4 linked regions of the Homo sapiens genome follow. The protein of the gene in region 1 purifies or fractionates together with the protein of each later gene. This does not show direct contact. Each region holds a gene or a part of one and is shown in the gene's direction. Other genes may lie near its edges.

What was found.
Region 2: the proteins of CD44 (region 1) and TMEM160 purify together in Homo sapiens (co-immunoprecipitation; 3 studies listed by BioGRID and IntAct, with this or other methods). This does not show direct contact.
Region 3: the proteins of CD44 (region 1) and FGFR1 purify together in Homo sapiens (affinity purification with mass spectrometry; 4 studies listed by BioGRID and IntAct, with this or other methods). This does not show direct contact.
Region 4: the proteins of CD44 (region 1) and VANGL1 purify together in Homo sapiens (co-immunoprecipitation; 3 studies listed by BioGRID and IntAct, with this or other methods). This does not show direct contact.

The regions. Positions count from the first base shown.
Region 1 is NC_000011.10:35,205,166-35,212,186, forward strand, and holds part of CD44 (CD44 antigen isoform 1 precursor), read left to right. Parts: intron 1-619; coding exon of another isoform or gene 620-675; exon of another isoform or gene 676-882; intron 883-946; coding exon 947-1,078; intron 1,079-2,939; coding exon 2,940-3,041; intron 3,042-4,452; exon of another isoform or gene 4,453-4,799; coding exon 4,800-4,889; exon of another isoform or gene 4,890-5,609; intron 5,610-6,080; coding exon 6,081-6,284; intron 6,285-7,021. UniProt on the Homo sapiens protein: Cell-surface receptor that plays a role in cell-cell interactions, cell adhesion and migration, helping them to sense and respond to changes in the tissue microenvironment.
Region 2 is NC_000019.10:47,045,615-47,053,581, reverse strand, and holds TMEM160 (transmembrane protein 160 precursor), read left to right. Parts: upstream 1-4,957; 5' UTR 4,958-4,967; coding exon 4,968-5,175; intron 5,176-6,896; coding exon 6,897-6,989; intron 6,990-7,329; coding exon 7,330-7,595; 3' UTR 7,596-7,673; downstream 7,674-7,967. Other genes in the region: NPAS1 (neuronal PAS domain-containing protein 1), read right to left, coding at 7,931-7,967.
Region 3 is NC_000008.11:38,423,621-38,430,641, reverse strand, and holds part of FGFR1 (fibroblast growth factor receptor 1 isoform 1 precursor), read left to right. Parts: intron 1-693; coding exon 694-960; intron 961-2,206; coding exon 2,207-2,296; intron 2,297-2,548; coding exon 2,549-2,721; intron 2,722-4,396; coding exon 4,397-4,520; intron 4,521-5,942; coding exon 5,943-6,133; intron 6,134-7,021. UniProt on the Homo sapiens protein: Tyrosine-protein kinase that acts as a cell-surface receptor for fibroblast growth factors and plays an essential role in the regulation of embryonic development, cell proliferation, differentiation and migration.
Region 4 is NC_000001.11:115,637,630-115,644,985, forward strand, and holds the start of VANGL1 (vang-like protein 1), read left to right. Parts: upstream 1-4,340; 5' UTR 4,341-4,457; intron 4,458-4,999; exon of another isoform or gene 5,000-5,077; intron 5,078-7,356.

The DNA.
Region 1 (7,021 bases):
CTTCTCTATTCTTGAATTGTGAGATTGTGGAAATTGGAATCCAGTCTTATCATCATCTCTAAGTGATACCAGATAACTTGGCTTTGCAAGCTCCCATGCAGGATTCTTTTGTCTGTGTGACATAAGTATTAAAATGTGTCCTGCCTTATAAAGAATGTGAATTCCATATTCTCACTTGGTATCAGTGAGAAATATTCCCATATTTCTATTTGCAACATAGAAGATAATGCATCATGTCCTTCTGGGGCATGGCAAGTTCTAAATGAATTCCTGGCAGAGCAATGGATTCTGTGATTGTCTATGTGGTGTAGTTGTTGCTAAGAGGATGCTATTGTAATCTTTTCTACCTATACTTCTTCATTGGCTCAGAATGAAGCAAGGCATGTGCTGCTTTCTTATATGTCATTTATGCCATAAATCCCATTGTTAGAAGGTAATGCTTCTAACGGATTCCATTCATGCTTTTGAGATAAATGGCATTGACTTTCATATTGATCACATGGAAAGCTGTTACCTGATTCCTTTCCTGAGATCACTTCCAGCCTAATGTGCATTTGGCTGGAATATGGTTGTCTCAGAATAACATCATGCACTCGGGCTTTTATACTTCTGCCTTTAGGGGACTGTGGCAGCATGGCATGGGTCAAGAAGTACTTCTCCTTCATCTTCCTTTGATGTCGGTAACTCATCCTTTCTGCACTGCGGGAGTTGTTAATGCTTTTGTGTCCTCCAGTTCACATGCTGATTGCTAAGAAGAAAATGAGCATGAGTGAACCCAAAGCTGCTGAAACATTCTGCGTTTATGCAACTTCCTTGCCCTCTATACAAGGAAGATGGTTTCATTGTCTTGTCTAGAGAATAAAGTCTTTTTTAAAAATAAAATCGGTGTATCCCTGACCAAGCGTCCATTAACACTTTGACAATTGCTCAAACTGCATGGTCACAGCAGCCTCAGCTCATACCAGCCATCCAATGCAAGGAAGGACAACACCAAGCCCAGAGGACAGTTCCTGGACTGATTTCTTCAACCCAATCTCACACCCCATGGGACGAGGTCATCAAGCAGGAAGAAGGATGGGTAATAGCCTCTGAGATTTTTATATATTATGTTTTTTGAAATCCACTGAGTGACTGCTGACTATTTTTCTAGAAATATGCCCTTGGTTTTAGACCAAACTACTTTCCTGAAGGACCTGAGGTTCTTCAAAAATTAGTTTTCTTGGTAGGAGTGATACTCATATTCACCTGAATATGAAGTTCTGAGCTGAAAGTAAGGAATTTAGCAGGAGGGTTGGCAAAAGAAAAAACTTATTGTCAAAATATATCTGTGTGAGGCAGTAAGTAATAGATATGAAATGAATGTTGCCAACAATAAACGCTAAAGAAATTCTGAGAACCCCTCCCTGCCCACCACAGCATCACAGAAAGGTGAATTGGACTTGGTTTATGAAAAATAAAAAAACCCTGGATAGTCAGAGAAAGGAAGTGGGTGGTGGGGGTTGGTGGGGGGGGCAGTTTTCCTAAGAAGGAGACTCCTGTAAGGAGAAACGTGAAGGAAGAAAAGCCAAGGAATGAATATGTCAGTGAGTGGATCCATTTTTCACAAGGGAAGATGTGTTTGAATGGCTAGGCAGGGGCCATTATGTTGAGTGACTGAAGTACCACAGGCAGACCCAGCACACATGAGTTTGCACATGGCAGCTGGAGCTCTGAGGACACCCATGGGGGAAAACCAAGCCAGGCAAAGATCTTCAGAATCAATATTAATTCTATGTACTGATGAAGAGAAAGAGATTCCATTAAATTAATGAACATGTCAAGGACAATACAATTGGCTTCAACTACACAATGGTATGATGACTCTTGAAGGACTCTACTTATAAGAGGGAAGATGAACAAGAGTCTAGAGCCCATCATCAAGTGGGACTTTTTCTGGGAGAATGTCCATTTGTGGTTTTGATTCAGGTTAGCACTTGCTCTTGTTTGAAATCTGGGATAACAGGGTCACCACATTTTTGTCCTACAAAGATCTTTAATATTTTAGTGTTGAATATTTAGTGTTGAATCTTGAATATTTAGTGTTGAAAGGCTGCAGTGCAGACCTGGGTACCCAGTATTCTGGTGCTTCACTGGGACTGATTAAATCTCCCCCAGAGGCAGTGATGTGGATAGACTTTGACTGAATTGACAGCCAGAAATATCGATGGGGTTTATGAATTGTTTGGCCTCTGTTTCACTCAAGACTTCTTATTTCAGCAGAGTAGATCTGTGATAACTGTTAAAAACAACATTTACAAGTATTTCAGTGAAATTTCTGCACTACTCAACATTGTACATGTTAAATTTTAAAGACCGCTTATACTTGGGTTTTTGGGAAGAATAATTCAATGACGTCCACTGCTTCTTATTTCTTGCCCCTGTATACTTTCTGTAACTCCACCTAGGTGGTCTTGGATGACGATTCTGTTTATTTGCATATTCACTTTGTGAAGAAAAAAAGACTAAAGGGGGGAAGAGGGCTATTTTTAAAAGTCCCTTTGGTTGGTAAGGGGGAGGGGATAAAATGGTGCCTGAGCCAGCACACTTTGTCTTTTCTCCATGTGTCAGATTGCATGTTTCTATAAAAAAGGCAATGTTTCTGTCTCTCTGCAAGATTTGGGTGTTCCATCATGCACTCATGTGGAGTCCTTCCAGACTCAGCAAAAACAAACACACAGCATAGCTTTCATATAACTCGGCCCTTCAAGGAAAGCCAGTTACTTGTTGTGGTGCTCTTTGATGAAACAATAATCTATCTCAGTTCGGGAGATATAGTCAGTATGTGCTTTCTTTCCTCTTGGCCAGATGTGAATATTTAAAAAAATCAGCTGTAGACCATAAGCCACCTTCAGGTAGTGGTTTGGGAAATCAAGCAATAACACTAATATTGATTCCTTCAGATATGGACTCCAGTCATAGTATAACGCTTCAGCCTACTGCAAATCCAAACACAGGTTTGGTGGAAGATTTGGACAGGACAGGACCTCTTTCAATGACAACGCGTAAGAATAACGATGCTCAGCCACTTTATTGACTTGTATTCCTGCTTCATCTCTTACTCGCTATTGGCCAAGATGCAGAGCTTTGGTGGTGGAATGGTGCTATGTGGCTTACTTCAGCCCAGAGTGTGAAACTGTCTTCATTGTCTGTATTTCTTGTGGAGGTCTCTCAACCTGATTTTCCCTTCATTTCTTTGTGCCTTCCAGATTTAATGACTTTGTGTTTTAAGAAAAAGTAGGACTCTATTCAACTCCATTTTCATTCTCTAAGTAGTTATGTCAGTGAAACACATGCCCACTTCCAGGATAGTGATTTCTCTATGTTTTAACTGACCATTTCCTTTCAATGTCCATCTTTCCTCCAGCCAGTGCAGAAGAGGGGTAGGATTGCTTGCATGGTTGTAAAAAGACATTTTTGGGGCCAGATAATCCTAGAGATCACATCAGTTCTCAGAGGAGAGGCAAGGCATGTTATTGACAATCAACAAAGGTGGCGGGATCCCTGGAACAACAACAACAACAAAACATTGCTAGTATCTCTTTCTATCACTAAGAAATGTTCAAATTCTAGTAGCCTTAATTTCTACTCTATGTGCAGGGATGTCCTAGAGATCAGCCTAAAGTCGTTCATAATTTCTTTGAGGAATACAAAAGAAATCTAGAATTAAGAAGGTCCCATTTTACTGCTTGCCACACATAATGGGCAGAGTCCTTCATATGAGCCCTTTAGGCAAAGGAAAAAAATCAGCAAGCATGTATTGATGGTCAGCAATGTAAATAGCACAGCGTTAAGCATCAAAGGAGATGCAAATAAGCCTATGAATGGTCCTTGCCAAAGAAGGACTTATATTTCCGTTTTATGTCACTGTTGGCTTTTGTTCTGACATTGGGTTTGGGATTTAGTGACTGTCTTTCTCCTGGTTGTAATATTTATTCGGTGGTGGGCATGGCTTATGGGTGTGCTTTATGAAGTTTTTGCACCTGCAACTCAGGTCAGTACCTTTCTTAAAAGAACACAAAAGAAATAAACTTGAAACAGTCCAAGTGATTTTAGATATGGGCAATGGGTCAACCTCCAGTTGATATATGTCACTGAGGGCCCTGTGTTTGCCCAGGCAAGCGTTTCCTTGGTGCAGTGATGAAAATCCCAATGCACAGGTGAAATTAAGAAATAACTTAATAATGGAGTAAAATGGTAACTTTAATTTAATGACCTTTACAAGGTAGCTAAGTATTTCCTTGTATAAATTTGATCTGTGTTACTTGAGTAGGCTATTCTAGATAGGCTTCTTTTTCTTTTGTGGTTACAACTAGACTACAGGCTATCATAGTGTTCATTTTCCCTGCCGTCACATTTCTTGACACACAGTTAGGTGCTTTTGGTTACTGATAGGAGCATTGGGATTCAAATATTCTTTTTTCCATGTCTCTGTGTTCTCTGGTTTTCTGGAGTGACTGGGAGCAATGCTGCAATTGAGCCTGGACAATCCAGGATAGGCAAAGTTTTGGCTCAGTCTTCACCTTGCCACTTTACCTTTGATGATTATACTGAGAAATAAAGGGTCTTCAGAACCAAATAGGGGCAAAATAGAATTCTTCTGTATATTTCTATCAATCAGAGGAGAATTGTGTGCACAAACCTTGGTCTTCCTATGCACCTATCCATCTGACTCTACTCTAGCTAGATTTTCCTTGCTAGCAGATAACAGGATTTGTACCGTAGCTTCAAATTAACACTGGATTCATTCCTCATTGAAACAGAGCAGAGTAATTCTCAGAGCTTCTCTACATCACATGAAGGCTTGGAAGAAGATAAAGACCATCCAACAACTTCTACTCTGACATCAAGCAGTAAGGATTATAAAACCTAGTTGGCTTCAGCTATTGATAAGAATCAATCAATTATGGGTACTTTTGCAGTGTCTTTGGTGGAGGTGCATCCATTAGCTGCCGTTACACTGTTACTTTTAATCAAAAGGTGCGTCTGGTGGTGGTTCTCTGATTTTTCTGTTTTATATACCTCTTCGTACATTAAGTGCAAACTACATTTCTTCATCTTAAAAGTTGGGTTTCTTTCACTCTAGAGTTAGTGATTTGTTTTAACAATAATGGATTGCTTATATATGATTTATTTTATTTATTTATTTTTGTTAACTTGAGATCTTTCTAACTTTTTTATGTGGGCGTTTAAATTTAGTGCTATAAATTTCCCTCTTACTACTGCCTTAGCTGTGTCCCAGAGATTCTGATATGTTGTATCTTTGTTCTTATTAGTTTCAAAGAACTTCTTGATTTCTGCATTAATTTCATTATTTACCCAGAAGTCATTCAGGAGCAGGTTATTTAATTTCCATGTAATTGTATGGTTTTGAGTGAGTTTCTTAGTCTTGATTTCAAATTTGATTGCGCTGTGGTCCAATAGACTGTTTGCTATGATTTCAGTTCTTTTGCAGTGTGATTTATAATTGGCGTAAATGTCTGATTATATCACTTTACATTCCTCACAATAATATTGTTTTGCCTTTTGTCCTCTGGACCTCCATGGTGCTGATGACTAAAAAGCAGTCCCTTCTGGAAAAGAAAAGAATAATTAAATTAGTAGCCTCAGGCCTTTGAAACCATGCATTTGCTATTTTAATTGCAGGCAGCAAAATTTTATCTTTCAATCCAATGATATGTTTCCTCCACTACATCAAAGATGAATCCAATTGAGAAAGAACTCAAGATTATCTAGTACCTCAGCTGACTTCAAGATCACAGTTGTAGTGACATAGCCTTACCTAATAACCCAAGCAGATGTTGCAACAAATGCCAATTCTGGGTATTAAGATCACCAAAATCTCTTCTGTTGAGTGATGTCCAAGTAGTGTCTATTGCAAAATATTTATTCTGTTCAATAGTATGACAAACTTCACTCTATTTCTCCCTATTTATGGATAACAAGTGGAAAGCTTTTGCAGCAATTGTGTGTTCTGGAGACAAGCACATGGTGGGTGGTGATCTTACAAATACGGGTTCATCACTGATTCCACCTCCACACAGATAGGAATGATGTCACAGGTGGAAGAAGAGACCCAAATCATTCTGAAGGCTCAACTACTTTACTGGAAGGTTATACCTCTCATTACCCACACACGAAGGAAAGCAGGACCTTCATCCCAGTGACCTCAGCTAAGACTGGGTCCTTTGGAGTTACTGCAGTTACTGTTGGAGATTCCAACTCTAATGTCAATCGTTCCTTATCAGGTAATTTGGCATTTATTATCTAGTTTGCTTTCTCTATATAGAGAAACAATATATAGTTTCATATTACAGAGGACATTTTCTGTGTAGTCTGGGATTGGACTAGTTTGTGATATGGAAATATCTTTCATTATTGGTTATCAATTCTAGTGCAAATAAACTTGGGTATATTTTAGATAAAAGAATGCTTCCTTTTGCCAGTGTTTTTTCCATTTGTCTGTGTTTGCATGTGTGTGTGTGTGTGTGTGTGTGTGTGTGTTGTGTGTACAAGTTGGCTGTTATGATGGAATTGCTTTCTTTGTCTTATCTTGTGATATATGAAGTTGAACCACATGAAACTGATATTTTTGCAGGTGAAAGTAGTCGAATTTTAGCAATTCCGTTTAATTCGACTAATATACTCTACTTATTTTGTAAGGTTTTATCCTACAGGTGAATAATTTCTATATACTAGTATCTTTGCTCTGAAATTATTATCTTGTTTTGGTAATAGATTGATCAGTTTTACTTTTGGTGATGGATAAACCTCTTCTAGTTCTGATGCACACTTAAAATGTTCATGATTTAATCTAGTATTAATGAATAGGGACCACTTCTCTTATTGTAATAGTGAAGAGAGGAACGAAGATAATTTATTCAATGAAGTTTGACACGGACCTAGAATAAGTCTTTTTTTTTCTCAAATAAGTAGTCATCTCTGCTTCTGCTTTTCTTTGCTTCTCCATTTGTATTAAGAAATT
Region 2 (7,967 bases), on another chromosome or scaffold:
ATGGCGTTTAGGCTCTTTTTCTTCAAATATAAAAATCCAGCCCAGTACATGGCTCGTTTGACAGCAACCCTGAGACGCTTTATAGCCCTAGACCCTAAAAGGTCAAAAGGCCGTCTTATTCTCAATATACATTTTATTACCCAATCTGCTCCTGACATTAAATAAAACTCCAAAAATTGGAATCTGGCTCTCAAACCCCACAACAGGACTTAATTAACCTCGCCTTCAAGGTGTACAATAACAGAAAAAAAGTTGCAATTCCTTGCCTCCACTGTGAGACAAACCCCAGCCACATCTCCAGCACGCAAGAACTTCCAAACGCCCGAACCGCAGCAGCCAGGCGTTCCTCCAGAACCTCCTCCCCCAGGAACTTGCTACACATGCTGGAAATCTTGGCCACTGGGCCAAGGAATGCCCGCAGCCTGGGATTCCTCCTAGGCCGCGTCCCATCTGTGTGGGACCCCACTGAAAATCGGACTGTTCAACTCACCTGGCAGCCACTCCCAGAGCCCCTGGAACTCTGGCCCAAGGCTCTCCGACTGACTCCTTCTCGGCTTGGCGGCTGAAGACTGACGCTGCCCGATCACCTCGAAAGCCCCGTAGACCATCACAGACGCCGAGCTTCGAGTAACTATCACAGTGGAAGATAAGTCCGTCCCCTTAATCAATACAGAGGCTACCCACTCCACATTACCTTCTTTTCAAGGGCCTGTTTCCCTTGCTTCCATAACTGTTGTGGGTATTGACAGCCAGGCTTCTAAACCTCTTAAAACTCCCCAACTCTGGTGCCAACTTAGACGATACTCTTTAAAGCACTCCTTTTAGTTATCTCCACCTGCCCAGTTCCCTTATTAGGCCGAGACACTTTAACTAAATCATCTGCTTCCCTGACTATTCCTGGATTACAGCTACATCTCATTGCTGCCCTTCTTCCCAATCCAAAGCCTCCTTTGCGTCCTCCTCTTGTATTCCCCCACCTTAACCCACAAGTATAAGATACCTCTACTCCTTCCTTGGCAACCGATCATGCACCCCTTACCATCTCATTAAAACCTAATCACCCTTACCCTGCTCAATGGGTAAGGCCTTTTAAGCCTATAAACTCTCCTTACAATTCCCCCATTTTACCTGTCCTAAAACCAGACAAGCCTTACAAGTTAGTTCAGGATCTGTGCCTTATCAACCAAATTGTTTTGCCTATCCACCCCATGGTGCCAAACCCATATACTCTCCTATCCTCAATACCTCCCTCCACAACCCATTATTCTGTTCTGGATCTCAAACATGCTTTCTTTACTATTCCTTTGCACCCGTCATCCCAGCCTCTCTTCGCTTTCACTTGGACTGACCCTGACACCCATTAGGCTCAGCAAATTACCTGGGCTGTACTGCCGCAAGGCTTCACAGACAGCCCCCATTACTTCAGTCAAGCCCAAATTTCATCCTCATCTGTTACCTATCTCAGCATAATTCTTCATAAAAACACACGTGCTCTCCCTGCTGATCGTGTCCAATTAATCTCCCAAACCTCAATCCCTTACAAAACAACTCCTTTCCTTCCTAGGCATGGTTAGTGTGGTCAGAATTCTTACACAAGAGCCAGGACCGCACCCTGTAGCCTTTCTGTCCAAACAACTTGACCTTACTGTTTTAGCCTAGCCCTCATGTCTGCATGCAGCGGCTGCCGCTGCTTTAATACTTTTAGAGCCCTAAAAATCACAAACTATGCTCAACTCACTCTCTACATTTCTCATAACTTCCAAAATCTATTTTCTTCCTCATACCTGACGCATGTACTTTCTGCTCCCCGGCTCCTTCAGCTGCACTCACTCTTAAGTCCCACAATTACCATTGTTCCTGGCCCGGACTTCAATCTGGCCTCCCACATTATTCCTGATACCACACCTGACCCCCATGACTGTATCTCTCTGATCCACCTGATATTCACCCCATTTCCCCATATTTCCTTCTTTCCTGTTCCTCACTCTGATCACGCTTGATTTATTGATGGCAGTTCCACCAGGCCTAATCGCCACACACCAGCAAAGGCAGGCTATGCTATAGTACAAGCCATGAGCCCGCCTCTTAGAACCTCTCATTTCCTTTCCATCGTGGAAATCTGTCCTCAAGGAAATCACTTCTCAGTGTTCCATCTGCTGTTCTACTACTCCTCAGGGATTATTCAGGCCCCCTCCCTTCCCTACACATCAAGCTCAGGGATTTGCCCCCACCCAGGACTGGCAAATTAGCTTTACTCAACATGCCCCGAGTCAGGAAACCAAAATACCTCTTAGTCTAGGCAGACACTTTCACTGGATAGGTACAGGCCTTTTCTACAAGGTCTGAGAAGGCCACCGCAGTCATTTCTTCCCTTCTGTCAGACATAATTCCTCAGTTTAGCCTTCCCACCTCTATACAGTCTGATAACAGACCAGCCTTTATTAGTCAAATCAGCCAAGCAGTTTTTCAGGCTCTTAGTATTCAGTGAAACCTTTATATCCCTTACGGTCCTCTGTCTTCAAGAAAAGTAGAACGGACTAAAGGTCTTTTAAAAACACACCTCACCAAGCTCAGCCACCAACTTAAAAAGGACTGGACAATACTTTTACCTCTTTTGCTTCTCAGAATGCTGCAGGGTACAGCCTATTTGAGCTCCTGTATGGACAATCCTTTTTATTAGGCCCCAGTCTCATTCCAGACACCGGACCAACTTAGACTGTGCCCCAAAAAAACTTGTCATCCCTACTATTTTCTGTCTAGTCATACTCCTATTCTCCGTTCTCAACTACTCATACGTGCCCTGCTCTTGTTTACACTGCTGGTTTACACTGTTTCTCCAAGCCATCACAGCTGATATCTCCTCATGCTATCCCCAAACTGCCACTCTTAACTCCTGAAGTAAACAAATAATCTTTGCTGGCAGGACTATGCTGAATCTCCTTAGGCACTCTCTAATCAGATGTCCTAGGTCCTCCCAATTCTTAGACCTTTTATACCTGTTTTTCTCCTTCTCTTATTCCATTTAGTTTTTCAATTCATACAAAACTGTACCCAGGCCATCACCAATACTTCTACACAACAAATGTTTCTTCTAACAACCCCACAATATCACCCCTTACCACAAAATCTTCCTTCAGCTTAATCTCTCCCACTTTAGGTTCGCACGCCGCCCCTAATCCTGCTTGAAGCAGCCCCGAGAAACATCGCCCATTCTCTCTCCATACCACCCCCCAAGACTTCAACACTATTTTGTTTTATTTTTCTTATTAATAAAAGAAGGCAGAAATGTCAGGCCTCTGAGCCCAAGCCAAGCCATCGCATCACCTGTGACTTGCACGTATACATCCAGATGGCCTGAAGTAACTGAAGATCCACAAAAGAAGTAAAAATAGCCTTAACTGATGACATTCCACCATTGTGATTTGTTCCTGCCCCACCTAACTGATCAATGTACTTTGTAATCTCCCCCACCCTTAAGAAGGTTCTTTGTAATTCTCCCCACCCTTGAGAATGTACTGTGTGAGATCCACCCCTGCCCGCAAAACATTGCTCTTAACTTCACCGCCTATCCCAAAACCTCTAAGAACTAATGATAATCCACCACCCTTTGCTGACTCTCTTTTCGGACTCAGCCTGCCTGCAGCCAGGTGAAATAAACAGCCATCTTGCTCACACAAAGCCTGTTTGGTGGTCTCTTCACATGGACGCGCATGAAACGATTCTCCTGCCTCAGCCTCACAAGTAGCTGGGATTACAGGTGCCTGCCACCATGCCTAATTTTTGTATTTTTAGTAGAGATGGGGTTTCACCATGTTGGTCAGGCTGGTCTCGAACTCCTGATCTCGTGATCTGCCCGCCTCAGACTCCCAAAGTGGTGGGATTACAGATGTGAGCCACCGTGCCTGGCCCGGGCTTGGATTTTATGAAGAGGAAAAGTAGGGGAGCTAGCAAGGGGGTTACACTTGAGGAGGGAGTTCAAATGGACTGCACTGCATAGCCTGCAGGCTTGCAATGAATGTGAAGCTTTAAATGGGATTAAGTGCAAATTGAAAATATTCCAGACACATTTTTCACATTCCTGGCTAGTGAAAAGGTTTATGCTGATGAGAGAAGGCAAAGCTGAATCCCGGAATGGGTTAGGGCAAAGAAAACAAATCTGTCTTAAAGAGACAGACCTGGCCGGGCACGGTGGCTCACGCCTGTAATCCCAGCACTTTTGGAGGCCGAGGCGGTTGGATCACTTGAGGTCAGGAGTTCGAGACCAGCCTGGCCAACATGGTGAAACCCTGTCTCTACTAAAGATACAAAAATTAGCTGGGCGTGGTGGCGCATGCCTATAATCCCAGCTACTCAGGAGGCTGACGCAGGAGAATCGCTTGAACCCGGGAGGTGGAGGTTGCAGTGAGCCGAGATCGCACCACTGCACTCCAGCCTGGGCGACAGAGCAAGACTCGGTCTCGGGGCGGGGAAAAAAAAGGAAGGAGGGAAGGAAGGAAGGAGGGGAGGGAAGGGAGGGAGGGAGGGAAAAAGAAAGAGAGAAAGAAAGAAAGAAGGAAAGAAAGAAAGAGAAAGAAAGAAAAAGAAAGAAAGAAAGAAAGAGAAAGAAAGAAAGAGAAACAACCAAGAAACAACTACAATAGGTGCTCGGCATGTACTCCGTTAAAAAAGATAGAATTAAAACTACAATTCCCAGCAGACATCTCGCCTGCGACTTCTGAATATCGGCTTTCCCCGAGCGCAATGATCGCTGGGATTCGTAGTCCGGTACAAAATCAAGGAGGGACGGGCACTACCGGCCTAGATGACAGAGGAGGGAATCACTGCCATTCCGACCAATGGACAGTTCACGCCGGACCTGAGTGGCGAGCGCATAGCCAATGGGTAAGCCATTCATCCTGAGTGACATGGGTTGCAACCTACCGGAGGCCGGTGGGGCGGTACGGCGCGCGGCGGCCGTAGTGCGAATCATGGGAGGCGGCTGGTGGTGGGCTCGGGCCGCTCGCCTTGCCCGTCTTCGCTTCCGGAGGTCGCTACTGCCGCCTCAGCGGCCCCGGAGCGGGGGCGCCCGGGGGTCCTTCGCCCCCGGCCACGGTCCCCGCGCCGGGGCTTCGCCGCCCCCAGTGTCCGAGCTGGATCGTGCGGACGCCTGGCTCCTCCGAAAAGCGCACGAGACAGGTCGGTGGCTAGGGGTGGGGGCGGTGCGGATGGGACGGGGGTCCCGGGCTCGCGTGGGACCTTGATGGGGCGGGGGCTTCTGCAGGAAACGGGGCCCGGGCTCGGCTCCGAGAAGGGCTTCAGTGTGAGCGCACGGAAGCGCAGACTGCAAGAGCGCAGGTGCCCGCAGAGGGGATGGGCTTGCGGGGAGGACGAGGACCCCGGGTAACGGGGCGCCGTAGGGATTGGAGGGGGTGGTAGGGTTGCGCGAGGCAGCCTCGTAGAATCGCGCCTGCCGTGGGGAGAGGGGCTTCAGGGAGAGCTTAGGGTCTGTGGAGTTGGGTACAAGATGGGTCCATCCCGATTGCAGAGGCCACCACTGTGCAGAGAGCGGGAGTGTGGATCCCCGCAGAAGAGGGGGAAGTTCAGGATTGGAGAAGGGGACAACCAATCGGGAGAAAGCTCTCTGCTGATTGGAGGGGGAGGTGATCTAGGCTGCAGAGGGCGGGGCTTGTGACGGAGGCGAGGTCCAGAATGGAGCGGACTGGCCATGTTTGTTTTTTTTTTAATTTTATTTTTTTAATGACGGTGTCTTGCTCTGTCACCGAGGCTGGACCGCAGTGGCGCAATCGTAGCCCACTGCAGCCTTGAACTCCTGGGCTCAAGCTATCCTCTTGCCTCAGCCTCCTGCTTAGCTGGAGCTACAGGCATACACCACCGCACCCAACTATTTTAATTTATGTAGAGACGGGGTCTTGCTTTGTTGCCCAGGCTGGTCTGAACTCTTGGGCTCAGAGAATCCTCCTGCCTTGGCTTCCCAAAGTGCTGGGATTATAGGTGTGAGTCACCTCACTAGGCCAGGACCGGGCATCTAGATATAGGGTGTGGTGGGCTGTTTGTAAAGGACGTGAATGGGGACGGACGTGGGTGGGATTGGCCCAGGCCATACTCGGTAGGACATGGATGGGATTGGCCCAGGCCATACTCGGTAGGAGATGGCGGCATTTGAAGGAAAAGAAGGGCGAGGCTGAAGAGCGGCCTGGATTAGGAAACAGTTTGTCCCAGAGTTCTGAGAAAGAAGTGAGTGGGCAGGCCGTGGGGGTACACGTAGAGGGAGGGGTTTGGCCAAGATGACTCCTCAGATGGAGGTTCTGCAACTTTGCCCCTAGATTGTCCTCCACATTCTGCAGGGACTATCTTGAATCCTTTATTTTTTTTGAGACGGAGTCTCACTCTGTCGCCCAGGCTGGAGTGCAGTGGCATGATCTTGGCTCGCTGCAACCTCTACCTCCTGGATTCAAGTGATTCTCCTCCCTCAGCTTCCTGAGTAGCTGGGACTACAAGCACGTGCTACCACACCCTGCTAATTTTAACATTTTTAGTAGAGACAGGGTTTGACTATGTTGGCCAGGCTGGTCTCAAACTCCTGACCTCATGATCCGCCTGCCTTGGCCTCCCAAAGTGCTGGGATTACAGGGGTGAGCCACCACACCCGGCCCTTGAATCCTTAGTGTTACAGAGTTTGGGGGAGAGGGGCACTGAGGTGGAGGCCAGAGAGGATGTGGGGGGATATGGTTAGGTGAGCGGCTTCCTGGAAGAGGTGAGGATTTGGGATGGGCTTGCCTTGCGGCTGGATGGGATGGGGTGAGCTGAAGGGAGGCCCCTCAGTTTGACTGGGTAAGGGGGATTGAGGAGGTAGGGTTGGGGGTGATGTTAATCCCCCCATGTCCCCCTCCCTCCAGCCTTCCTCTCCTGGTTCCGCAATGGCCTCCTGGCATCGGGCATCGGGGTCATCTCCTTCATGCAGAGTGACATGGGTCGGGAAGCAGCATATGGTGAGTGCAGACCCCCCCTCTCGCCCCACGGAACCAGGGAATGCAGAGCCCCTATCACCTGCCCTGGTGAGAGTAGACTCTCCTACCCCATCCCACTCCCAGTAGTAAGTATAGAACCCCCATTCTTCCCCCACCAGAAGACACCCCTCCCATAGGCACTAGGTCCATCTGAATGGGTGGCCCAGGACATGGTTATGGTCCCCTCCCCTCCGATCTGATTCTCAAAGATGCAGGCTAGCCCCTGGCACGGCCCTGCCTCTGTTCCTGTCTCCTCAACCCTGGCTTTGCTCCCAGACCATCCCCCGACCTTGGCCCTGTTGCTACCCTGCCTCTCCCGCAGGCTTCTTCCTGCTGGGCGGCCTGTGCGTGGTGTGGGGCAGCGCCTCGTACGCCGTGGGCCTGGCGGCGCTGCGAGGACCCATGCAGCTGACGCTGGGGGGCGCGGCCGTGGGCGCGGGCGCCGTGCTGGCCGCCAGCCTGCTCTGGGCGTGCGCCGTGGGCCTCTACATGGGGCAGCTGGAGCTGGACGTGGAGCTGGTGCCCGAGGACGACGGGACGGCCTCCGCGGAAGGCCCTGATGAGGCGGGTCGGCCGCCACCCGAGTGAGCGACACGGCCGTGGGGCCTGGCAGGCGCTGGACAGCGCCCGAGGACTGGGACATTAAACCTGACCTCCCCTCCTCCAGATGCAGAGTATTGGTTCGTGTTCCTTGGGAAGGGCGGCGAGGAGCGGACTAACTGGAGAGGCAGGAGGGCGGGTGGAGGGAGAGGGGGGTGAGGACCCGGGGGAGACAGAAATGGACAGAGGAGCTCACAGCCCGGAGCCCAAACCACTGCAGGGAGAGCCGGCGTTTAATTCTCAGGGCTACGGGCAGAGCCGGGCCTACTGTCCTGGGGGACCCCGGTTGTCGCAGGGTCCGGCGCCGGCAGCTCTGCCAGTCCTCAGTCCCCCTTCCGCGGCAGCCTGGTGCCCGCGGGC
Region 3 (7,021 bases), on another chromosome or scaffold:
GCCTCCCGTCCTAATATAGTCAACAGCTCCAAATCCCCTGCCCTGACACCTGTTAGCGAGAGGTTCCCTGAGCTGACCTCTCCTTGGGCTGCCCCCCCAGCATGTGCATCTGACGCGTCGAGGGCCAGACCCCCACCCTCTCCGAATCACACGCATCCTGGTCAGCCCCCAGTTGACAAATTGCCTTCTCTCGACTTGGGCAGGGGCTGCTGGGGTTTTGAGGGGCGGGGTTTGTTCAGCTGTTGCTAGGGAAGGGTGAGGCTGAGCTATCCCAAAGGAAATGGGGTGTTCCTCTGGCAAGTGGCAATCTTGGCAAAGAACTGAGCATCTGGGGAGGGGGCAACTCCGGACACAAAGAAGTCCTGGGGAGGGCCGACCTTTCCCCTTAGGATGGGGGAAATGAAATGCGCTTAATGCTGCTACAGCTGCTTCCTAACTTTGCCTCTTTCTTCCTTTGACTTTTGGAGGAGTGGGGTGGAAAAGAGATGGGGGTTCCCAGGCAGCCAGCTGTTTTCCCCACTGACCCATGCTCCAATTCCCACTGCCCTGGCTCAGTAGCCTCCAGTAAGTGATGCCCAGGATGGTGCGGCTCCGTGTGGCCAGCGTAATTCCCTTTGTCTCTCCCCTCCTCCCCTCTCCCTGTCTTCCTCTCTCGCCCCTTGGCTTCCCTTCCCGGCCCCGTGGTGGCTGCAGCCCAGCCCTGGGGAGCCCCTGTGGAAGTGGAGTCCTTCCTGGTCCACCCCGGTGACCTGCTGCAGCTTCGCTGTCGGCTGCGGGACGATGTGCAGAGCATCAACTGGCTGCGGGACGGGGTGCAGCTGGCGGAAAGCAACCGCACCCGCATCACAGGGGAGGAGGTGGAGGTGCAGGACTCCGTGCCCGCAGACTCCGGCCTCTATGCTTGCGTAACCAGCAGCCCCTCGGGCAGTGACACCACCTACTTCTCCGTCAATGTTTCAGGTTGGTAGCCAAGCCCTGCCCTTGCCCCTCCCTAGACCCACCCCCTCCAGCCCTCTCTGCCAGTTTCAGAGGAAGGTGAACCTCCTCCCCCTCCGTGATCTGCCCCCACTCTGCTTCAGAAACTGCTGCCCACTAACATTGCTCCCTGCCTGCCGCGTGGCTTGGCTCTCAGAGAGGTGACTAGGTGGGGTGGGCCCCAGGGCCGGAGATCTGGGGCTTCCAGGACACACCTCGGAGGTGATTGCCAGGGCTCTTGGGATGTTAAGACCCTGTGATTTTTTTCCACCACAGCTTGCCCAGATCTCCAGGAGGCTAAGTGGTGCTCGGCCAGCTTCCACTCCATCACTCCCTTGCCATTTGGACTTGGTACTCGGCTTAGTGATTAGAGGCCCTGAACAGGTGGTGGTATCCCTGCTCTGCTGGAGAGGAACCCAGGTGCACCGCAAGGGAGCTGTGCGAGGGCAGCCAGGGAGCCCTGGAGCTCTGTGAACTTGGGAACTTGCCACTCTTAGAATGTGACTTTCACAAAACTAGGAGTTGAGGAAGTGGAGCTGAAATTTTCTTTATGCCATTTATGCACCTCAGGGTGTGGACTTGGCAGCAGATCCCCAAAGGTGATAGGAAGGACTGGAGAAAGATCTGGCATGAACCCTGATGGGTGACCACATGTGTATCAAGCGTGTTCTTACAAGAAATAAATACTTATTGGGGAGAGGTGTTGGCAGCTGCTGGGGTGGTGGGTGCCCTATCTGCTCTGATTAAGGAGGGCAGCCCCCAAACCTTAGTAGACACATGCTAGAAAAATTCTGACTGTGGGGTGTTTAGCCCATCCTTTGGAAATAGCATCTAGCCACAGTGTGTCTAGACCTGCCTGGGTTTCCCTATAGTCAGCCGTCCAAAGAAGAATACAGGTTGCCTGGCTCCAGCACACCCAGGTGGCACCACAAGTTGAGAAAGCGCCTTTGAATGTAGGACGGAATTAAGTTAAATAGGAACAGCTGACCCTGATGGAACCACCCAGTGTGAAGGCTTCCAGGCAGTGGGGGCAGTGCTTCGGGGAAGGAAGCAAACACGCACAGGAACTGTTCTTAAACAGTTTCCATCCCACCAAGAGATCATCACTAAGGGAGCAGTGGGACTGGGATCCCCATGGGGAGGGTGTCCGTGTTCATCTGGAACTGCACTAGCCTTGGTGAAATCTAGGGGTCCCTAGGAGGAACCTCAGTGCCCCTTCTTCTTCCCATAGATGCTCTCCCCTCCTCGGAGGATGATGATGATGATGATGACTCCTCTTCAGAGGAGAAAGAAACAGATAACACCAAACCAAACCGTATGCGTGAGACACTGTTTCCTATCTTACTGCCCTTTGGGTCTGGGCATTGGGTTTAAGAGGGGAGGGGAAGGCTGAAAGGGGAGGAAGAGGAGGGCACATGGGGTCACGGTGCCTGTTCTGCTAAGTGCCAGGCACTGCTCACAGGTGTTGGGCAGATGGGCAAGACACCTCCAGGTCCTGGCCTGGGCCCTGCTCCTGAGCCTGACCAGCTGCTCCTCTCCACCCTGCCTGTCTCTCTTGGCTTTCCCCGGGCAGCCGTAGCTCCATATTGGACATCCCCAGAAAAGATGGAAAAGAAATTGCATGCAGTGCCGGCTGCCAAGACAGTGAAGTTCAAATGCCCTTCCAGTGGGACCCCAAACCCCACACTGCGCTGGTTGAAAAATGGCAAAGAATTCAAACCTGACCACAGAATTGGAGGCTACAAGGTACGTGTGTGTGCATGCGAAAGTTAGAGTAATGGGAACAGGGGAGGCCGAGTTAGGAAGTCCTGATTACATGCTTTTCATTTTTTTAAGTAATACTTTCCACCTATACAGGTTATTCATTAAAATTTTTAAATACAAAAAAATGCAAATAAAGTTTAAACATTTCTTCAGTCTTCTTTCTGTAATATGGTTTTTACATAGTTGATCACATCATGTATGTAATTTCCTTGCCTTGTCATTTGTTAACATGAGTCTTTTCCTGATATATTTCAAGCATGAATATTTGAAACATAATTTTTCATGACTGTATAAGATTCCATTATTTTAAAATCCCATAATTTGGCTGGGCATGGTGGCTCACGCCTAAAATCCTATCACTTTGGGAGGCCGAGGTGGGCGGATTGCCTGAGCTCAGGAGTTCGAGACCAGCCTGGGCAACATGGCGAAACCTCCTCTGTACTAAAAATACAAAAAATTAGCCATGTGTGGTGGCAGGCTCCTGTAATCCCAGCTACTGGGGAGGCTGAAGCAGGAGATTGCTTGAACCCAGGAGACAGAGGTTGCAGTGAGCTGAGATCACGTCATTTCACTCTAGCCTGGGTGACAGAGTGAGACTCTGTCTCCAAAAAACAACAGAAAAAGTCCTATAATTTAATGAACTATTTTGTGATATTAGGTATTTTCTGGTTTTTCACCATAATAAATAATGTTGCAGTGAATCTCTGTCAGCATTTTTTTAAGCGTGCTTCCTTAGGACAGATTGTTACAAGTGAAATTACTAACTTAAAGGGTGTAAGCATTTTTTTTTTTTTTTTAGACGGAGTCTCACTCTGTCACCCAGGCTGGAGTGCAGTGGTGCCATCTTGGCTCACTGCAAGCTCCACCTCCCAGGTTCATGCCATTCTCCTGCCTCAGCCTCCCGAGTACCTGGGATGTGCAGCCACCATTCCCAGCTAATTTTTGTATTTTTAGTAGAGACGGGGTTTCCCCATGTTGGCCAGGCTGGTCTTGAACTCATGACCTCAAGTGATCTGTCCGCCTGGGCCTCCCAAAGAGCTGGGATTACAGGCTTGAGCCACCGCACCCAGCCAGAAATATTTTAAATTAATTCACCATGCACTCACTACATGCAAGACACCATGCTTTAAATGCTGCAAGATAGCGTTCCTGCCCATAAAAATTTTGCAGTCTGATAGGAGGCAAATGTCCATGAGCAGCTACCGTAAAAAGTAGACTGTGATCAGTGCTTTGGTAGGCAGAGAGGAAAGGGTGAGCACAGTTCTGACCAGAGACTGGACTGGAGGAGATGGTTTTTGAAATGAGCTGTCAAGGACAGTGGGGGCTGGATTCTTAGTGTAATAGGAGAGGTGCACAGTTGGGAACATTCTTGGTGTATTTGGGAGTGTTTGCAGAAGGCACATCTGTCCGGATCACGAATGATCTTGAACGTCACAGTGGAGACTTCTGGAGTCTTTACACCCCATCTGCCAGCTTGCAGAGTGTGAACGGGCTGGTAGGGGGGCAATCCACGCCTTGTCCTAGCCAACCCTGCAGCCTGGGGCCCTGTGCCACCAGGCTCTGATATGGAGGGCAGGTGCCACGGGGTGCCGACATTGTCATGGGGCCTGCATTTTCCTCTGGACCCTCAATGTATCCCTTTGGCATTTCCCCTCAGGTCCGTTATGCCACCTGGAGCATCATAATGGACTCTGTGGTGCCCTCTGACAAGGGCAACTACACCTGCATTGTGGAGAATGAGTACGGCAGCATCAACCACACATACCAGCTGGATGTCGTGGGTAAGAGGGCAGAGGCAGCAGGAGGAATGAGTTTAGTGGGAAGAGCCAGGCTTGGAGAACACAGCCGGGGTGTCCAGGTTTCTTAGGGGCAGAGTCAGGATAGCGATTGGCACTTCTTGGCTTTGTCACCTTGAGCAGGTCACTTCTCCCTTTTGAGCCTCACTTTTCTTATCTGTAAAATAGAGTTAAGATCAGACAGTAACACGGTCAAAGCTGGTTGTCACTGTGAAATTGAAGGTGCTGTTCAGAGTCTGTCCTGAAGGAGGCGTTGTTGGAGAGGTGTTAAATGTAGCGTAATAGGAGCTGTCGCTTAATGCTAGCAAGATGCCAGGCTCCTTAAATACCTGCCCTGTAATGCTCATGGCACACCTGCAAGGTGGGCAGTATTAGTCTAGCCCTGCACAGGAGCACAGGCGCATAGGCTCAGAGAGGTCAGACACCTTGCTAATGCAGAACTGCACACCTGTGCCAACTTCAGGGCATCACAGGAGACTCTGGGAAGAACATTGAGCCTCTTGGAGCTATTACCGCAACCTTTTCCTTCTAGGAGTTCTGAAACTCACTCCCTAGAGATCATTGGGTACAGAATCTCTCAGCCAGTGTTCTTCTTGATTATGATGATATGGTCTAAGAAGGAGATTGTGGCCAGGAGCAGTGGCTTATGAGCTCCAGGTGGCATGATGGGATTACTCACGCCTGTGATCCCATCACTTTAGGAGGCCAAGGCTGGAGGATTGCTTGAGGCCAGGAGTGTGAGACCAGCCTGGGCAACACAGTGAGACCCTGTCTCTATAAAAAAATTTAAAAATTAGCCTAGTGCAGTGTCATGTACTTGTAGTACCAGCTGAGTTAACTGAGGCTACTGAGGTGGGAAGATCACTTGAGCCCAGGAATTCGAAGCTGCAGTGAGCTATGATGACACCCTTGTGCTCCAGCATGGGTGACAGAGTGAGACCCTGCCTTTAAAAAAAAAAAAGGTAAAAAGGAGATTCTGATCCAAGAGGTTGGGGTAAGATCTGAGATTCCGCGTTTCTAACAAGCTCCTAGGGGATGCTGGTAGCACTGCTCGTGGACCACACTTTGAATAGCAGGAGTCAAAGTGACTCTGGTTTTTTAAGGAGGAGCAGGTTGTGCTGAGGTCTGGGGGTGCAACTGAATTAGAAGGTTCTCCATTAAAGCATGAGCGACTTACTGTGACTGTAAATATGATGACTGCCTTGGGGAGGAGGATCCTGATGGCTTAGGGCCTGAAGAGAGGGTGTCCCTTTCCCCAGCTCTGTTTTGAGAGGCTTGGGCTCAGCAGAAGTGCTGGGAGGTTTACAACCCATCACTGGGAAAGCCAAGTGGGGCGCAGGTGAGCCCACCCCTCTTTAGCCATGGCAAGGTCCCCATGACAAGTGCCTCCTCTCCCATCTTCCACAGAGCGGTCCCCTCACCGGCCCATCCTGCAAGCAGGGTTGCCCGCCAACAAAACAGTGGCCCTGGGTAGCAACGTGGAGTTCATGTGTAAGGTGTACAGTGACCCGCAGCCGCACATCCAGTGGCTAAAGCACATCGAGGTGAATGGGAGCAAGATTGGCCCAGACAACCTGCCTTATGTCCAGATCTTGAAGGTAATCATGGCACCAGTCTTCGTGGGCCAGTCTACTGGGAAGGAGACCACTGTCTCGGGGGCTCAAGTTCCTGTGGGCAGGCTCAGTTGCCCCCGAATGGGATCATTCCTCACGCTTCAGGCACACACACTCCATCTCAGTAGGGATCTAGCCACATCCCCCAGGACTAGTAACAGAGGTCACAAAGTGGAGGTGAGCTGGGAACAGAGGGCTGCAGGGATGGGTGGTGCTGGTCTGTAATAAGCTTTGAGAGCAACGTCACTGGGGCTTTGGGGTCAGCTACACAAGGAAGGCATTTGGACCCCTGCCTTTTCATTGCCCGAAACCAGAGCCTTTCCACCAAGCGTTTCCCAGTCTTAGCCCTGTGTCCTGAGTTACGTACGATCTTTCTGGCAAATGGGGTGCATGATAAGAGCATCTCTTACGAAGAGTTGGAAAAACAAATGCCATATATAAATTCTAAGCCATATGAGGACGAGGAGTAATGGCATTTTCTTCCTTTTTCCTCTCACTCCCAGACATTCATTGTCCCTGAATGCTCCATTAATCCAGGGAAGGTAATTGCCTAAATCTCCAGTGGATCTCGCAACAGGAAGGAACCAGAAGCTGGGAAAGTTGTTTACCTCTTTGTCCCAGAGTTAGACCTCATCCTCCCCTAGCTTAGCTGTCTCAGAGATATACTGGCCCTCCCTTCTCTTCTCTTTGCTGCTGGTGCTAAAACTGCTCTGTAGGTCATTGGCCACTGTCTCCACTCACAACCCCTGCTCCAGTCCTGGAGGGAGTGGGTTAAACACAAATAGAACATTCCATTTGAAGCAGTGATTCTTTTTTTTTTTTTTTTTTTTTAATCAAATGCTTTGGACTTTTGAAGTCCACTTGTTCTGTACT
Region 4 (7,356 bases), on another chromosome or scaffold:
GTTCCTTCAGGAGCTCTTGTAAGGTAGGCCTGTTGGTGACAAAATAGCTCAGCATTTGCTTGTCTGTAAAGGATTTTATTTCTCCTTAGCTTACGAAGCTTAGTTTGGCTGGATATGAAATTCTGGTTTGAAAATTCTTTTCTTTAAGTGTGTTGAATATTGGCATCCACTCTCTTCTGGCTTGTAGCAGTTCTGCAGAGAGATCCACTGTCAGTCTGATGGGCTTTCCTTTGTGGGTAACCCAACCTTTCTCTCTGGCTGCCCTTAACATTTTTTTCCTTCATTCCAACCTTGGTGAATCTGATGATTATGTGTCTTGGGGTTGCTCTTCTTGAGGAGTATCTTTGTGGTGTTCCCTGCATTTCCTGAATTTGAATGTTGGCCTGTCTTGCTAAGTTGGGGAAGTTCTCCTGGATAATATCCTGAAAAGTGTTTTCCAACTTGGTTCCATTCTCCCCGTCACTTTCAGGTACAACAATCAAACGTAGGTTTGGTCTTTTCACATAGTCCCATATTTCTTGGAGGCTTTGTTCATTCCCTTTCATTCTTTTTCTCTAATCTTGTTTTCACACTTTATTTCATTAAGTTGATCTTCAATCTCTGATATCCTTTCTTCCGCTTGATTGATTCAGCTATTGATACTTGTGTATGCTTCACGAATTTCTCATGCTGTGTTTTTCAGCTCCATCAGGTCATTTATGTTCTTCTCTAAACTGGTTATTCTAGTTAGCAATTCCTATAACCTTTTTTCAAGGTTCTTAACTTCCTCTTATTGGGTTAGAACATGCTCCTTTAGCTTGGAGGAGTTTGTTATTACCCACCTTCTGAAGCCTACTTCTGTCAGTTTGTCAGACTCATTCTCCATTCCAGTTTTGTTCCCTTGATGGTGAGGAATTGTGATCCTTTGAAGGAGAAGAGGTGCTCTGGTTTTTGGAATTTTCAGCCTTTTTGTGCTGGTTTTTCCTCATCTTTGTGGATTTATCTACCTTTGGTCTTTGATGTTGGTGACCTTGGGATAAGGTTTTTGTGTGGACGTCTTTTTTGTTGATATTGATGCTATTCGTTTCTGTTCGTTAGTTTTCCTTTTAATAGTCAGGCCCCTCTGCTTCAGGTCTTTTGGACTTTGCTGGCGGTCCACTCCAAACCGTGTTTGCTCGCGTATCACCAGCAGAGGCTGCAGAACAGCAAAGAACAGCCTGTTCCTTCCTCTGGAAGCTTTGTCCCAGAGGGGCACCTGCCGGATGCCAGTCAGAGCTCTCCTGTATGAAGTGTCTGTCGACCACTGCTGGGAGGTGTCTCCCAGTCAGGAGGCACAGGGGTCAGGGACCCACTTGAGGAACCATTCTGTCCCTTAGCAGAGCTCGAATGCTGTGCTGGGAGATCTGCTGTTCTCTTCGGAGCTGGCAGGCAAGAACATTTAAGTCTGCTGAAGCTGCACCCACAGCTGCCCCTTTCCCCAGGTGCTCTATCCCAGGGAGATGGGAGTTTTATCTACAAGCCCCTGACTGGATCTGCTGCCTTTCTCTGAGATATGCCCTGCCCAGAGTGGAGGAATCTAGAGAGAAAGTCTGGCTACAGTGGCTTTGTGGAGCTGCAGTGGGCTCTGCTCGGTTCAAACTTCCCAGTGGCTTTCTTTACACTGTCAGGGGAAAATCATCTACTCAAGCCTCAGTAATGGCGGATGCCCCTCCCCTCAACAAGCTCCAGCATCCCAGGTCGACTTCAGACTGCTGTGCTGGCAGCAAGAATTTCAAGCCAGTGGATCTTAGCTTGTTGGGCTCCATGGGGGTGGAATCCCCTGAGCTAGACCACTTGGCTTCCTGGCTTCAGCCCCCATTCCAGGGGAGTGAGCAGTTACGTCTCACTGGCATTCCAGGAGCCACTGAGGTATGAAAGAAACCTTCTGCAGGTATCTCAGTGTCTGCCCAAATGGCCGCCCAGTTTTGTGCTTGAAACCCAGGGCTCTGGTGGCATAGGCACCCAAGGGACTTTCCTGGTCTGTTGTTTGTGAAGACCATGGGAAAAGCATAGTATCTGGGCTGGAATGTACTGTTCCTCACAGCACAGTCCCTCATGGTTTCCCTTGGCTAGGGGAGGGAGTTCCCCAATCCCTTGCGCTCCCTGGGTGAGGTGACGCCCCACCCTGCTTCAGCTCGCCCTCTGTAGGCTGCACCCACTGTCTAACCAGTCCCAATGAGATAAGCTGGGTACCTCAGTCGGAAATGCAGAAATCACCTGCCTTCTGCATTGATCTTGCTGGGAGCTGCATACTGGAGCTGTTCCTATTCAGCCATCTTGCCCAGGTCCCCCGGCATGTTTTTTTTTTTTTTTTTTTAATTGAGATGGAGTCTCGTTTTGCCCAGGCTGGAGTGCAGTGGCATGATATCAGCTCACTGCAACATCTGCCTCCTAGGTTCAAGCAATTCTCCTGCCTCAGCCTCCTGAGTAGCTGGGATTACAGGTGCCTGCCACCACGCCTGGCTAATTTTTTTATTTTTAGTAGAGATGGGGTTTCGCCATGTTGGCCAGGCTGGTCTTGAACGCATGACCCCAAGTGATCTGCCCATCTCAGCCTCCCAAAGTGTTGGGATTACAAGCTTCAGCCACCAAGCCCGGCCTCTACATGGCATTTAAAGGTGAATTTATTATTTTAAAATAGGTTATTTGCAACTACCCCTCTTTCCCACAAAACATCATCTGGTAAGGTGGCTAGACATAAGAACCTAAGTGAATTAGAATTACTTTCTGAAAACTCATTGAAGATCTCTGTGTTAATTGGAGCTATTCAGGTACATGACTAGAATTGGAAATCCCTGGCCTGTTTGAACTTTGAAAGTTCTACATTTTAGAGATGAGAGAGACATGTTTTTATAATGTTCTACATTTCTGACCCTGAGTGCTGATTTGGGTGAATAGACCATTGGCTTTACCCATAGGAACCTGGCTGCCTGAGTCAGCAACATCTGCTCTCTGGAGCCTACTGGGAGGCTGGGGGTGGGGGAGGAAGATGGTCTAGGCCACTGAGTGGGGCAGCAGAGCCTGGGGACTAGGAGTGGTGAAAATCAGCCACATTGAACATATGGGTGTCTTCTCAAGGAAATGTGACATATGCGAGAGAAAATGGAGTCTAGAAGGGATGAGGAAGAGGTGATCAAGGGAGTGAGGGGTTCTTGGAGCCAAGGTTCCCTGATTAAGGCTAGTCAGGGTGGGCCTGCATTTCCCCACCCCAAATGCCCGCAATACTCCTGTAGACAACTCTTAGGAAATTCAGCACTTCATTATACACTGCTTCCACTGGAAAATCCTGCCACGTAAGCAGCTTTGGGTCCCAGCTAGATTGGAGATGATCAGTAAGGAACCCTAATGCTACCAACACAAGACAACTAAGAAAAGTGCAAATATTCATGAAAATCGTTGCCAACTGTTTTGTAATCCTCACCACAATCCTGCAAGGTGGACAGCAGCATCCTCACCACTTTTCAGACAGGTAAACAAAGGCTCAGAAAGGAAACAGTACCTGGTTGGAATCAGCACTGAAGCTTCAGCTACCTGCCTGCAGAGATGTGCTCATCTAGCAGTTTCTAGGAGACTAGGCTGGCGGCAGTGCCTGCTCTGATAAGGGAGGAGGAGGGGAGAGGCTTGCTGTGGTGGCTTGTAGGGGGTGTGTGTGTGTGTGTGTGTGTGTGTGTGTGTGTGTCTATTTGTGGGGTCATTTCCAGGGCTACATGTGAGTTTAAGTGTGTGTATATGGGTTGAGATATGGTGTATATGGATATTTGTCGGTCAGTTCTTGGAAAGTGTGTATATGAGTGTGTGTTGAGTGGGGTTGGGGGGTTAGTCCCTGAGCCGTGTGAATATGTGGATGGGGGCACTCGTGAGGGCAAATGGGCTCGGATTTTGTGCATGATTGTGTGTGTGTGTGTGTGTGTGTGAGCTTGAGATTCCAAGTATGTGGGGGAGGGAGGGGGCGGTGTCGGAGATCAATCCCTGGGCCATGTGTTTATAGTGTGTGTGTCTGCCCAGAAGAGAGTGGGTTACTGGGCTGTGCACGTCTGTGTAGGGTGAGTGTGTGTATGAGGGTGAATGAGTGTGGGAGGTGTCATTCCCTGGTCCGTGTGTAAGAGTGTGACCGCGCACGCCTTCGTGTGTGTCCCGGGTGTGTGGGGTCGGGGCGGTGACGAGGTGAGGGGGACGCCGGCCGAGCCCCGCCCTCCGCTGCAGGTGGGCCGGCCCCGCGGCGGGGCCGGCAGCGCTAGCTGTTCTTGGCTCGCGGCCGCGCCGGGCTCGCAGGGCTGGGCTCGGGCTGCGGGGCGGCGCCGGGACAGGAAGCGGAAAGCAGCAGTGCAGCGGCGGCGGCGGCGGGGCTCTGCCTCTCCAGGAGCCCAGCGCAGGCCGCAGAGCCGGGGCCGCTGTGAGCCGAGACCGCGGGCCGCGGAGCTCGGGCGGCCGGCGCGGAGGTGAGTCCCGCGAGAGGCCGAGCGCTGCGCGGCGGCGGTCCCCGGGGCAGACCGTTGGCTGGGAGACGCCCCCACCTCGGACCCCGCGTGCCCCTGCGCCCTCCTCCCGCATTCGCCCCGCCGGACTTCGACCCCGGGTGGCCGGCTCCCGCCTCGGGCCGGGGGCTCCCTCCCCTCCTCCGGAGCGCTCCGGGTAGTGCTTCCTCTGACTCCACTCTTCTCCCCATGCGTTGCGCCCCTCCTGGCCCTGCCGTGCGATCTCCGCCGCACCCCACTCCTTGGGGTCCCGGGGTTCCCTGCTCACACCTCGGACGTCCCTTTCTCCCCGGGCTGGCCTTTGGAGTGCGCCCCTTCGGTGCGCGTGCCGGGGCGGCGGGCAGGCCGGCAGGGAGTGGCCGAGCGTTGGAGGCACCGGGCGGCTGCAGCAGCCGTGCAGGGCGGGAGCCGGGCGCGCACCGGGGTTCCCACCCCTGGCGGGGCTCGACCCGGGCGCCGCCTGGCCCTTCGCCAGGAACCGGGACAGAGCTGGTCTGTGTGCACACCTCGCTCACAAAAAATTGAGCCGGCCCTGGAGGCCTGGGGGGCGAGTCCGGTTGCGCCTCGGAGAGCGCAACAGGCAGGTAGGAGTTTACTTTCAAAAACGCCGGGGTGGAGCAGAGGCGCCTGGCGGGTCTCTGCCCAAGGTGTCCCTGCTGGAGGAAATCTCACCGCGCCGGGGCAGCCTTCGCCACCGGCAGGACCTCATTTCCTTCTGCAGTCTTTGAACTGCCCCAAGCATCGCGCCTAGAGAAGTGTGAAGCTTTATAAAAATTTAAACGCGTCCGTGGTGGCGGCAGCAGTGGGGCGGAGCCGCGGCCTGGCTGCTGTGTGATGAGCAGATGAGACTTGGAGCTGAGGAATCTGTTGCTCAGTTTTCACTTCTCCAAACCAGGTCTAATGCCCACGCTGCGAAGGTGTTGTGAGCTCTCTTAGATTCTCCTTAGGAAGTGTTAGAGCGCCTTATGATGATGATTGTGTAGATGGCCCATGCATTTTGTTAAAACTCTTGACCTGGCTTTGGTTAGAAATGAATGTATTCTTAGACACTTAGTCCAAAAGCTAACAAACTGTAAAAGAATCTGGCATTTTCACTGACATGTTTATAAATTTTACGGGGCTGCTGAAAAATATTATAACTTGTATCACCAGTCAACAATGCTAATTAGCATTCTCCCGTCAGTGGGTGGGTTGAGTACACAGCTCCCAGGCTCTGCAAGTGAGATGGCAGAAATTGTCTGAATACAGGGAGAGGTAATTAGCCATTTTCTGTAACCACTAATTATAGAGTTTTTAGGGTTGAATTAAATCAATGTGATATAGTTGGGGCTTTGATTTGTGGGAGGAAACTGTTTCTTTTTCCAGTTCAAAGAAATAACACGCTTCACCTATCCATGAGCATTAAACATTCCCAAACGTTGATGTCTCTCAGTATAATTAGTGAAAACACTCAGTGTGGAATTTCACTATTAACAATGTTGGCAGTGAGGCTTGCTTGCAACTTAATTTGTAAGTAAAATGGGAGAAGAATTTTGAGAGTGATATATTTGTAAGGACTGCTTGCCAAGCAGTACATTTTTATTGTCTTATGTATTAAGCAACAGGACAAAACCATAAAGGAAATTTAAAGTTTCTTTACCAAGCAACAATTCCATGTCACCCTTTGTTTGAAGGATAAATGTGTTGAATGAAGAAGGCATCCTCCCCTTCATCATCCCCTTAACACACTTATATACACACACTGTGCTTGCTACCCTAGGCCTTATCAGCTATTTTGGTGGGATGGGCCCTTGTCACATTGTGTTTTAATTGGAGGTCTCCACATTGGGGCTGTGAGCTCATTGGGAGTTAGAACTATTTTAGATCCATTTCTTTTCTCCTGAGTGCCCCACGATGCTTGGAACACTGAACCTGTGAGTAGAAGTTGAAATTGCAAAATTCTTAGTGGGGTTATATGTGGTTTGGGACAATTTGTGATTGTTGCTTATACTCCTCTATATAAACAAACAATTCTAGTAATTGCTACAGTGCTGTCAATTTTCTGTAGCTAAGAACACAGGTTCTGGAGTTAGACTCTCAACGTTTAAGCCCTGGCTCCTGTGGCAGTCTGGTTTCCCTAACTAACATGATATTAATGTCTTATTTTTCTTAAACACTTGTTATGCGGATTAAGTGAGATATTACATGTAAGTGACTTAAAACAGCATCTAACACATAGTAAACACTTGACAACTAGAAACTGTTAGACTATTACCATCATCTCTGTAAAATCAGCTAGCTGGTTAGGGTCTCGCTGTATAGGGCATGTGATTTGGGCATCATGCTATTCTATTTTCCTTAAGATGGAAAAGATTAGGTGGGCTTGTGATTGGACCATGTTTCTGTTAGCAATATTGGTTTGGTGTTAGCAGTATTGGTTTGATGTTAGCAGTATTGAAGTTTGATGCAAGGATACATGTGTGTGCTGTTGTCTCTAGCAGTGTCCTTCTGAATCCCAGTTACAGGACAACAGTGATCAGACTCTGTACCATCAGATTTACAGAGGAGATAGTACTCATGAGATCTATTTTTCTGAAGTTTAAATATCTGGCAGGGAACAAGGGAGTCACTTGCAAGCAAATATACATCACATAACTCCAGACATGTTAACGATTCACACCTCTTCAGAAATCTGTACCCAGCTGCTGGAGGTGTTTCAGGGGTAATTAATGACTGGAGCCAAGAGAAGTTATTCTGGCAAGGTGAGTTGAAATCATTGGCGAAACAAGTAAAACAAAGTTGACATTTTCTTTCCTTGTAAATAATGACCCAGAATCATTCATTTATAAGCTGTTGTAATAAAAGAATCATTGGGTTTGTCACA